3 linked regions of the Homo sapiens genome follow. The protein of the gene in region 3 interacts with the protein of the main gene of each other region in a pairwise test. Each region holds a gene or a part of one and is shown on either strand. Other genes may lie near its edges. The genes, in order: KRTAP4-2, CRACR2A and ZNF20.

Region 1 (3,388 bases), on a different chromosome or scaffold from region 3:
GGTAACTATGTGAAGTGGTGGAGGTGAACTAATTTGATCATGACAATAATTTCACAATATATACATATCAGAGCATCAGGGTGTACACCTTATATACATACAATTTTATATTTCAATTATAGCTGAGTAGAGGTAGAAAAAATGAAATTGTTAAAGTACTAGAAGAAATCGTGAGAGATTCCTAAATATAATGTAAATTTATCTTAAGGAAAACACACACACACACACACACACTCACACACACTCACATCATGAAGAAAAATAGTTAATATAAAGTGATCTCTACTGAATCATCAGCAGGCACCAATCGTCACGGCTTCTCAAGGGCACGATTCTTTTCCAGAATACAAGGTCTCCTGGAAATCTTAGAGTTGTTCTCGTACACCACCATGGGGCTCACAGGGTCTTAATTCCACAGCATCATGGAACCCACTTTCATCCCTCAATAAAATATGATGTCTGGGTACATCAGAGCCAGAGAACAGTGCAGGCTCAGAACACCAGCCAGCGCACCAAGCAGGGGTTCACTTGGGAGCCCAAGTTGTTTTCATTCTGCTTGAATCACCTGGAAATTAGGGCCAGGGCAGGAGTAGGAACTGGCTTGGAACATAGCAGCATCATAAGAACACCACAATTTGATTTATTAGACTTATAAGCACCTGAGAGAAGAAAGGGAATCTCCCTCATTCATCCAATCCCCTCCATCTGGTTCTTGGATCTCCCTCAGAAACACCAGCTTACACTGAAACTCCTCCCCTGATTATCTGCAGAGGCTGCCCAGTTCATAAAACATTTCTATCATGGTAAGTCAGACATTTTTCCACCCCCTTCCCTGGGTTCCTTGACTCCTCAGGGGTGGGGAAATACATATATATTTATTAACTGATGAGTTAATGAATTGACAACATAGCACATTTTTGAAACAATAGTCAGCCATCCCTACATGAAAAAATATAGGCTGATATCCTTTGTTCTTGATACCTGTTTTCTGCTTTCTTTCTCTCTTTATTGATTTATTTTTTGAAAACAAAGATGTAAAGTGTGAAATTGGATCAACAACTTCTATAAGGAAGCAGCAGAGTATAGGACATCTTCAAGGCCCAGCAATTCAGCAGAGAAAGCAAGAGGGCTGGGAGCGAATTAGAGCAAGCAAAGGATACTGAGTCATCTAATTTGGGTTGGCCAGAAAATTTTGGAACCTGGAGAGATGAGCTCATGTGCCCTGTTAGAGCTAGGAAGGCAGAAAGGCAAAGTCACAAGGAAAATCTGCCCCAGGGAGCAAAAAAATGAGGGACTTGGACCTTTAAGTATAGCTGTTCTCTGAAGCCAACATTCCCCAAGAGGCCCTGAATCTGAATTTTGGAGGGTTGTTTCTGTAGAAAAGGAAACATCAAACTTTCACAGCTTAGTTTTCCACCTTAAAACAGCTCTGTATTTCTCATCAGAAGGTCTAGAAAATGGGTCACAATTCAGAGTGCGGAAGATAAAAAAGCGATAGGTCCTACGGTGTTCTCGTTCTCACACCAGTGGTCATCTGTTTCACACTGAAATCTGTTTCACACTGAAACCTTCACAGGCCATCTGACCCATAATGAAGGAGCCATCAGACTGAAATGCAGCTTTATCCTCCTGAGTCACCAGAAAGAGTCAAGGGCCTGTAAGAATAGTAATCACCCAAGAGTAGTCATGATGTGTTAAGCAAATGAGACTGAAGCACATAGTATGTGCTTACAGGCAGATGTCACATGGCTGCTCTAGGAGGAAGCTATAGTAAGAGAGACACAGGAGGTGGTTCAGGAAGAGCTGAGCTAAGGAGTCCTAACACATTAGGGAAAGGAGACAGTGTTTCCATCTATGTGGATAAGTTAACCAGAACAACAAACTTGCCTAATTTGATAATTGCCTACATATCAGGACAAATAATAACAAGGAAAGAGTGTTGCATCTGATGACATCAGGCCTTAGCAGGGTATAAAAGAGGATCTGGGGCAAGGAAACTTCCAAACCTTCCAAACCCACCTTCCTGGAAATCCACCCAGAACCTCCACCCTCTGACACCATGGTCAACTCCTGTTGTGGCTCTGTGTGCTCTGACCAGGGCTGTGGCCTAGAGAACTGCTGCCGTCCCAGCTGCTGCCAGACCACCTGCTGCAGGACCACCTGCTGCCGCCCCAGCTGCTGTGTGTCCAGCTGCTGCAGACCGCAGTGCTGCCAGTCTGTGTGCTGCCAGCCCACCTGCTGCAGCCCCAGCTGCTGCCAGACCACTTGCTGCAGGACCACCTGCTGCCGTCCCAGCTGCTGTGTGTCCAGCTGCTTCAGACCCCAGTGCTGCCAGTCTGTGTACTGCCAGCCCACCTGCTGCCGCCCCAGCTGTGGCCAGACCACCTGCTGCAGGACCACCTGCTACCGCCCCAGCTGCTGTGTGTCCACCTGCTGCCGCCCAACCTGCTCTAGTGGCTCTTGCTGCTGATGCCCTCACCTATACTCACCTGCCTTTATTAACCAGCATTCTTGATATGATCCACCTGTGAACTGAATCATGCAAGGCCAATTGGACAACCTCAGTTCCAACCAATTCTTGGATTGAGTTTGGCCTCCAAATATGCTCACCAAACACTATGTTGCTACCCTCTACCAAATGAATACAAGTTTGAATTTTCTCTGAAATATGTCAACCCCATGTTCCCTGAATTGAAATATTTGCTCTCTACCATAATTTATCACATGGAGCTATTCCTCTATCTTAAATAAATTTTAATTTTTGAGGCATACAAATAATATACGGGCATTGTGTCTCATTTTTCCTTCTTGAATTCTCATCCTTACCTGTCAAATTTTCTGATGTTCTTCCCTGCAGAGGGAGAAGACCACAGCAGATGATATCAGGGGCTCCACCTCTATCCTATCAGCACTCTCCATTCAAACATAGGAAAATGGTTCCTTAGAGCAGGCACCTGGAACTCTCTACCTGAGGACTTTCTCTGGATAAAGGAGCAAACTCTGGGCTGGAGACTTAAAGCCTCTAGGAACAGCACTCAGAGAATGAGTGGGAGTTGGTAATATATGCCCTGGCTTGTTTCCCTCCAGTGGGGGGTATGTCAAACCAGTCTTCCAGAGGTCTTCAGCGGGATTTATACCAGATGCCTGCAGGAACATTCTGATCATGAACTCACTCTATAATGACTTTCCCTCCTTCCCAGGGTCATTCTTCAAGTTTCCTCCAGTGTTTCTTGGGTTAATCGTCCAAATATACCACATGTTCTCAGATCCTCTTTTGTGGGTTTGCCCCAGAGAGCACACAATCTAAAACAGCAGCATTCCTAATCTCAGTATTAGTGTCCTTCAAAATGTTTTTGTACAATATGAATGGTTACCATAGATTTTGATC
Region 2 (3,750 bases), on a different chromosome or scaffold from region 3:
AGTTTGGTGAGAAACCATCCTCAAAGCAGCAATTTTTTGGATGAGTCTCAGCCTTTCTGAGCCTCTGTTATTCCAACTGTGAAGTGATACAATTAACAATAACAAAAATTTGATAAGAGCAAATACATTTGGCATTTTTAATGAACCTACTACTATTCTAAGCCCTTTAAAGATACACATTTATTTCGATTCATAGAACACCCCATGATGCAGGAGCTGTTACTATCCACATTGTACTGATGGAGAAAGTTCCAGTAACTTGCCAAGGACGTAGCTGGCAAGTTGGAGCACTGAGATTCAAACCCAGGGCTTTGGCCTCCAGAGTCTGTGCACTAACCACTGTAATACCTCTGAGACTGTAAGGGGCAAATGAATGACAACGCATTGATTTAGAAGTGAAAGGCGATCTAAACGTGCAAGTATTAACACTATTAAAAACAACAATAACAATGGTAGGTACCTCCGATGCCTCTGACCTTATCTCTCTGGTCACAGTTTTCTGCTCTGTAAAATGGGTGGGCAGGCTTTACACTGGATAATCTCTGAGGCCCCTTCCACTTCTCAGATTCTGATAATGAAATGTCCTTCTTTCCTCACATAAGGCTGAGAGAAGGTCAAGCCACCAGCTTGCAGACCTTGGGAGTTGACACAGGGAAGCATACCCAGGACAGAGCCAGAAAAGCCAAGGCACGCAGTAGGGACACACCAGAGGGCAGGCCTCAGAGCCCCTGACAGCCTTCTGAAACTCTGGCAGGGTGGAGGGAGGTTGTGGGCTAGTGGCTGGCTGGGCTGCAAGGAGAAGAAAGGACTCCACAGAGTAATTTATAACAGCTGCTCAGTAAGTGCTAATTTGTTTCTCTCCACCTTGGAATAGGACTTAGCGCGTGTGAGAGGGGGATGCTACTACATAAACCAGTACCAGAAAGATGGGCTTGCCAGGAAAGAACTGGGGCACTCTGCAGGGGCAGTGTCTGGGGAAGGGTTCTCCAAAAAGGTGACATTTCAGAGGGGCCTGGATGGATGAGTAGGATTTCAACAGGCAGAGATGAAAGGGGAGGGTGTTCCAGGCAAAAAGAAGAACTCCCAGCAGCCATGAAGAACAGCTGGTGTTTGGCAACAGCTAGTGTGTCCAGAGCGAAAGTGTTGTGTGTGTGTGAGGGAGAGAGGGTGAGGCTGGAAAATTAGGTTGTGGCCGGAGAGGGCAGGGTGGGCCTTGCCTTGTGCGCTAAGCTGAGGGGTTATCCTGCAGCCGGAGCACCTCGGGAGGCCTTTGAAGATTTACTCAGTGCTTTATTAACAAATACGTATTGGGTTTTTGGTGTTTTGTTTTGTTTTTAACGATTCATGCCCACAGTAGAATATATAGAAGAGTCAGAAAAGTATAAAGAATAAGGATCCCCTTTAGTTTCTGCTCCCAGAGGTAACAGCCGGAGTGACGCCGGGCTGCTGCCGGGTTTTCGGGGGTGCACTCCCAGACACCACCTCTCCAGTGAGCCAGCGAGGGCCGGACTGATGCCCCACCTTGGGAGCCTGAATCGGGGCAAGGGGCCTAGGGAGCAGCGGGACCCCGGAAGCCCGACCAGTCAGGCCGGCTAAGTCGGCAGCCGCCCCGCCCTCGCCACCCAGCCTCCCTGGCGGCCTCAGGTCGCGCCTGCAGGCCCGGACCCCACCGCTTGGCGCGCGCACGTCCCGGAGGGCGTCCAGGGGGCGCCGCTTCCCGTTCAGCTCCGCTGAGGGGCTGGTCCAGCCCGCGCGGCTCGGAGCGGAAAGAGTCGGGCGGAGCAGGCGGCTGCTTGACAGCTGAGAGCCGAGCGGGCGGCGCGGGCAGGTCCACGGGAAGCCTACACGCCCAAGGTAACGTGGAGGAAGGTTGAGGGTGGGCGGCCGGGGCGGCCGGGGGGCGGCGCTTCCTGCCTGCTCCTCCGGCTGCGAAGTGTGAGCGCGTGTCTGCCGCACATGGAACTCGCAGAGGGCCTGGATGGAGGCTGTGTGCCCTTGGGGGGGAACAGCTGGCTCCCCTGCCACCCCCAGGCCTGGCCTGGCCCTTGCTCCCCTCCCTGTCACTCGGTAACGGGACTGGAGGAGAGCCGAGAAGCACTAGGGTTTTGGTCAGGAAAGGACCTTAGGAACCCTCCAGCCTCATCCAGCCTCTTCATTTCACAGATGAGGAAACTGAGGCTCAGAATGGTAAAGTGACTTGCCCAAGGTCTCAAGTCTAAGAACCAAAACTCCTACCTTGCAGGTCAGTGCTACTAGGAGCCCTGGCCACGCAGGCAGCATCCACAACTGTTGCCATGCCGAGAAACAAAGAACCGAGACAGACAGTCAGAAAGACACAGAGAGAGAACCTCCCAGAGCAAAGGAAGGAGGTCAGGAAGTGGGCGGCTGCTGGGGCTTGGCTTCCGCCCTGGCCCCCGCGTGTGCTGGCCTGGCTGTGTGGCTCAGAGGCGTTGTGCTGACTCTGTCCGTGTGTGTGTGTGTCCGTGTGTGTGTGTGTCTGTGTGTGTGTGTCCGTGTGTGTGTGTGTGTGTCCGTGTGTGTGCGAGTGTGTGTCTGTGCACCCATGCATGCACGGGATGCAGCGAATGTACCCTGCCACGTGGGAAAGCCCTCTGAGTTCATTTATCTGTTTACACAGTGTGCTTAGGAACCTGCCCTGTTTGGCTCTGTGGAGGACACCAGGAGTCTCAAAGGAATTCGTTCTGTGTGACTCAAGAGGACAGAAAGAGCCAATCCGTGGGAGTCCCCAGGGTGGTCAGAGGGTCAGGAGGAAGAACCTAACTCATGAGGTGATGGGTTCCTTGTCTCTGGAAGAAAGCAGCATGTACCGAAGAGTCTTTTTATCAAGGATGTGGGCATAGGGATATGAAATCAGAGCAGTTTGCTCCACGTGGAATCAGCATTTTTGTTGAAGGGTCCAGAGTTCATGCCCCTTTTCAGGTGAAATGAATATGTACAACCTCATGGTTTAGTATTTGCCCATAAGAGCTACTTCATGCGCAGTTTTTAAGTGATAAGTGAGAGGCTTCAGGTATGGCTTCCGAGGTCCTGTCACCTCTCGGTTCTATAAGTGAGAGGCTTCAGGTACGGCTTCCGAGGTCCTGTCACCTCTCGGTTCTATACTATAAAGTGTGTAGAGGGAGTTTGGAGGAGGGAGGTTACTTCTGGAAGGAGTGACTCGCAGAGGGCGTCCTGGATGTGGCACTGAGGCCGGGCCTTGAATAGGAGGCTGGGTCTGGGCATCTTGGGGAAGGACGGCTGAGCAAAGCCGTGAAGGTGGGTTGTACCTGAGGAGCAAGGAGTAATGTAGTGGACAATCCGGTGAGGAGTGCTGCCTGGGAGAGATGGCAGAGGCTTGGAGTGTTACGAGTCTAGAAACTTCATTATTAAGCCTAGGGATATTTTGATGGTTTCTAAGAAGGGAAGTGTTGTTCCTGGAGCTGGGTTCAGAAGAACATGTCATCTGCACCTGGGTATGGGATGTACTGCAGTGGAGGAAGCTGTGGGAAGAGAACCTGGGAAGAAGCCCATTGCAGTCACCATGAGGGGTTGAACAGGGCTGGTGGGAATGGACAGGAAGGGGCTAAAAGGCTTGGGGGTAGGGGAAAAGTCATCTGCCATGTGCCAGGGCCTGTGGTAGGAGATTTTCATGTTTAATCTCATTTAATCCTCCTGACAACCTCATGAGGAGATTGCTATGATTGTTCCATATTGTAGAGGAGGAAACTGAGAGAGAGGTTAGGTGGTTTA
Region 3 (3,750 bases):
ACTTTCTCTCAAAAAAAAAAAAAAAAAAGGAAACAACCCAAAGACATTCTGAGATGGTGTCTGTGCCTTACGAAGATAAGAGGAGAGGAACAGAGGTTTTTCACTGGAGTATCAAGTGGTTATTCTCTATTCTATGTGAAATGTTCAGAAACAGAACACAAATATTTTAAAAAAAGTTATCCATGACCTTGTGAAAAGATGATAAACCACTAAAATACTGCATCTATGTGAAAGAAAGGATGAAGAAATATACTCTACAATAAAGAAAGTTGATACAGGAGGCTGAGGCAGGAGAATCACTTGAACCCGGGAGGCAGAGGTTGCAATGAGCCAAGATCATGCCATTGCATTCCAGCCTGGGCAACAAGAGCGAAACTCCGTCTCAAAAAAAAAAGAAAGTTGATAATACTGTGAGTTGGAGAAGGGGAGTTAATGTTTGGAGATGCGGAAAAGTAATTGAAAATTTAAGATGTTACTGCAAACTGCTGAAGAGTTAGGGCGGGGTAGCAGGGTGGAGGATTTGAGACCCATACATTAGGAAAATGCAGGAGGAAGCCAGTCCCTATAGACAGTGTGAAAAAATTTAAAGCAGCAGCAATTAGACTGAAGTGTGTTTAGTGCTATAAGAAACTACCTAAGGACACCAAAATCAAACTCAAATTGAGGCAGGAAAATAGGGTCTGGACGCAGGGAACATAAGGCCTATTCAAACTTCAGCTATGAAAGGAAATACCTACTCCATAGGGCGTAAGCCAAGTAAATGATTTTATAACCTTACTTCATCCTCTCCTTTTACATAGAGTATACCCCAAGTAACCAATGGAATCCTCCAGGGGGTATTTAAACTCCCAAAAATTCTGTAACGGGGCCTTTGAGCCCCTGTGCTCAGCCCCGCTTGCACACTGTGGAGTGTTAAATCCCTTCATTCCTTCCTTGCTTTGTGCGTTTTGTCCAATTCTTTGTTCAAGACGCCAAGAACCTGGACCCCCTCCACCGTTAACAAAATGCAATTCTTCTTAAAACTTTCTGGTACCAAAACCACAAATCATGACTGGGCGTTTCTCACTCATGAATCGCTGTTTGCTCAAACTCTTTAAATTTTTTTTTTTTTTTGAGATGGAATCTCGCTCTGTCCCCTAGGTTGGAGTGCAGTGGCGTGATCTCGGCTCACTGCAACCTTCGTCTCCTGGGGTCATGCGATTCTCCTGCTTCAGCCTCCTGAGTAGCGGGGACTACAGGCGCATGCCACCATGCCCGGCTAATTTTTTGTATTTTTAGTAGAGACGGGGTTTCACTGTGTTAGCCTGGATGGTCTCGATCTCCTGACTTCGTGATCCGCAAGCCTCGGCCTCCCAAAGTGCTGGGATTACAAGCATGGTCCACCGCGCCCGGCCCAAACTCTTTAACAGAAAAAAAAATCCGCAGGATTCCCCCATGACCCTCCCGTGGTCCCCGCAAAATCTGAAGAGACGCGGGGCTGCAGGCGCGGAGCTGCCCAGAGAGGGCTCCAGGGTCGGGGCCCACAGTCGCCCGCGCAGGAACAGAACAGGAGGACGCCCGGGGTCCCGGCTGCCGGCCCAGCCGCACCCTGCGGCCGAGGGGACGCAGGGACGAGCTGAGACAGAGGGATTCGGGTCCCAGATCCAGGAGGCGCGGCGAGGAGGCCCAGATCCCACCACAGCCGCTTCCGGCCGGTTCCACCCAGCCCCTCCCCCGTCTGGGGACTCCGGCCCCATACACTCACCATTTCCCGGCTTCTGGGTGTCCCGGTGTCCTCTCTAGGGCTCCCGTGAATAGTGCGGGTCACGGTGCAGGCGGCAGAGCGACAGAAGTTGTGGCAGAGGGACCCGGGGCCTCTCGGAGTAGGAAATCTGGTATCCCGACAACAACCTGCATAGCAACAAAAGTAGAAGCTGGAATGGGCCTCCTCCTTCCGGACGGACCGTTGGCCGGGCTCCGCCCCGGCGCTTCTGATTGGACAAGGTACAAGGCCCCGCCCCCTCAGAACTGAGTGACGGCAGAAGCCCTGGGTAACGAGCCCTGCAAAGCCGGACTGATCGGTTCTAGCCACAGCTTCTCTCTAAGGGACAACTCCTTCCCTGAGCCCTGGTCATTGGATATTTTCTTTTCAGCCAAATTTGCTCCTGATTTTTACACAGGGCACTATCTTCTTCCTCATTCAATGGGCTGTCAGTGCTTCTTCGTCCTGCACAGGGTTGTAAGTGTGTGCAGGGAATTCCAGACTGAGTGTCCAATGGAGCGATGTGCTGACCTCAGAGCAGGAAGGGGAGCCCAGATCAGGCCAGGCACGACTGCACCAAGAAGGAGAGGCAGTTGTCCTTCAGGGGCCCGGAATTAGGGATGAGACATGGCCAAGGCTTTCACACATCTCACCCCACCTCACAGTGTGGAAACTCTCCCTCCTTCCAGACCTTCATCTTCATCGGCAGAAAACTCTCACTTGGTGATTTTAAGCTTCTGACCTAAATAAACTGTCAACTGCATAAGCCCCTTCTCCAGGAGAGGTCCCAAACAGTTATTTCCCTGAACTTGATCTTTACGGATTTTCTTCAGATATGCAAATTACAGTCTGACCCCAGGGACTCTATGCATGTCAAACCCAAAACACTGCTCCCGAAAACCGCCCCAGATTCCAGATGTACAGCCGCAGAAAGGACAGAACTCCTGAAGTGCACCTGCACGTGGGTCTCCTGCTTTCCAGGGCGCTGCAGCATGTCAGAACCCACACTCTTTCTGGATCTGCTCTGAGCAGCTGCAAGCCACCTGCAGGGGAGGGCGGCTGCCCAGGAAGCACCCAGAACTCCACTTCACTCCTTGGCAGGATCCATACTAGCCTCAGCGTCCCGTCCCTGGCGTCGGTCTCTGCTGCCCCCTGCAGGTTATTCACCTGCTTCTCACATCATTCATCAGTTTCCATGAGACAAACATCCTCAATCCCACTGCGAGAATAACACACGAGCAAAGCTCTCCTCCAGTGTGTATGTATAAAGTCGAGGAGGAAGTGTCCAAGATTATTTAACTGCATGAAAGTGAGGCAGTAGTGGCTGGGCGCTGTGGCTCAAGCCTGTAATCCCAGCACTTTGGGAGGGCGAGGTGGCTGGATCACCTGAGATCAGGAGTTGGAGACCAGCGTGACCAACATGGTGAAATCCCGTCTCTACTAAAAATACAAAAATTAGCCGGGTGTGGTAGAGCCCACCTGTAATCCCAGCTACTCGGGAGACTGAGGCAGAAGAATCGTTTGTATCAAAGAGGCTGAGGTTGCAGAGAGCCGAGATTGCACCACTGCACTACAGCCTGGGCAATAGAGCGAGACTCTGTCTCAAAACAAAACAAAAAAACACACAAATGTTTAGTCATGTTACTTATTTCTGGTTTCCAGCCTGACTTTATAACATTCCTGACTCTGGGACTCTCCAGCTCTCCAGAATTATGCTTTGAAGAAAAAACAAGATAGAGCACAGGGCCCACATGTCTCTTATAAACTGTGAACCAAAATATTACATAGCAGCCATCTGTCAGAACTGCTTCCAGGCTATTGTCCTCAGTCACAATCCTAAATCAAACTCACTTTCTTTAACAAATTTAATTTTTTTTCTTCAGTCCACATGAGTAATCTAAAAGAAACACATAGACAGAAGAATCTCTTTATTATCATCTTTCTACCAAGTCAACATCAAGCATTAAAAAAATGTAAAACAAAGTGAAAACCATCCTTCTCTGATTCAT

Evidence for each region.
Region 1: the proteins of ZNF20 (region 3) and KRTAP4-2 interact in binary tests that used the Homo sapiens proteins (3 or more experiments, as listed by UniProt).
Region 2: the proteins of ZNF20 (region 3) and CRACR2A interact in binary tests that used the Homo sapiens proteins (3 or more experiments, as listed by UniProt).

The regions. Positions count from the first base shown.
Region 1 is NC_000017.11:41,176,836-41,180,223, reverse strand, and holds KRTAP4-2 (keratin-associated protein 4-2), read left to right. Parts: upstream 1-2,002; 5' UTR 2,003-2,059; coding exon 2,060-2,470; 3' UTR 2,471-2,778; downstream 2,779-3,388. UniProt on the Homo sapiens protein: In the hair cortex, hair keratin intermediate filaments are embedded in an interfilamentous matrix, consisting of hair keratin-associated proteins (KRTAP), which are essential for the formation of a rigid and resistant hair shaft through their extensive disulfide bond cross-linking with abundant cysteine residues of hair keratins.
Region 2 is NC_000012.12:3,751,119-3,754,868, reverse strand, and holds the start of CRACR2A (EF-hand calcium-binding domain-containing protein 4B), read left to right. Parts: upstream 1-1,759; 5' UTR 1,760-1,854; intron 1,855-3,750.
Region 3 is NC_000019.10:12,138,436-12,142,185, forward strand, and holds the start of ZNF20 (zinc finger protein 20), read right to left. Parts: upstream 1,916-3,750; 5' UTR 1,748-1,915; coding exon 1,745-1,747; intron 1-1,744. UniProt on the Homo sapiens protein: May be involved in transcriptional regulation.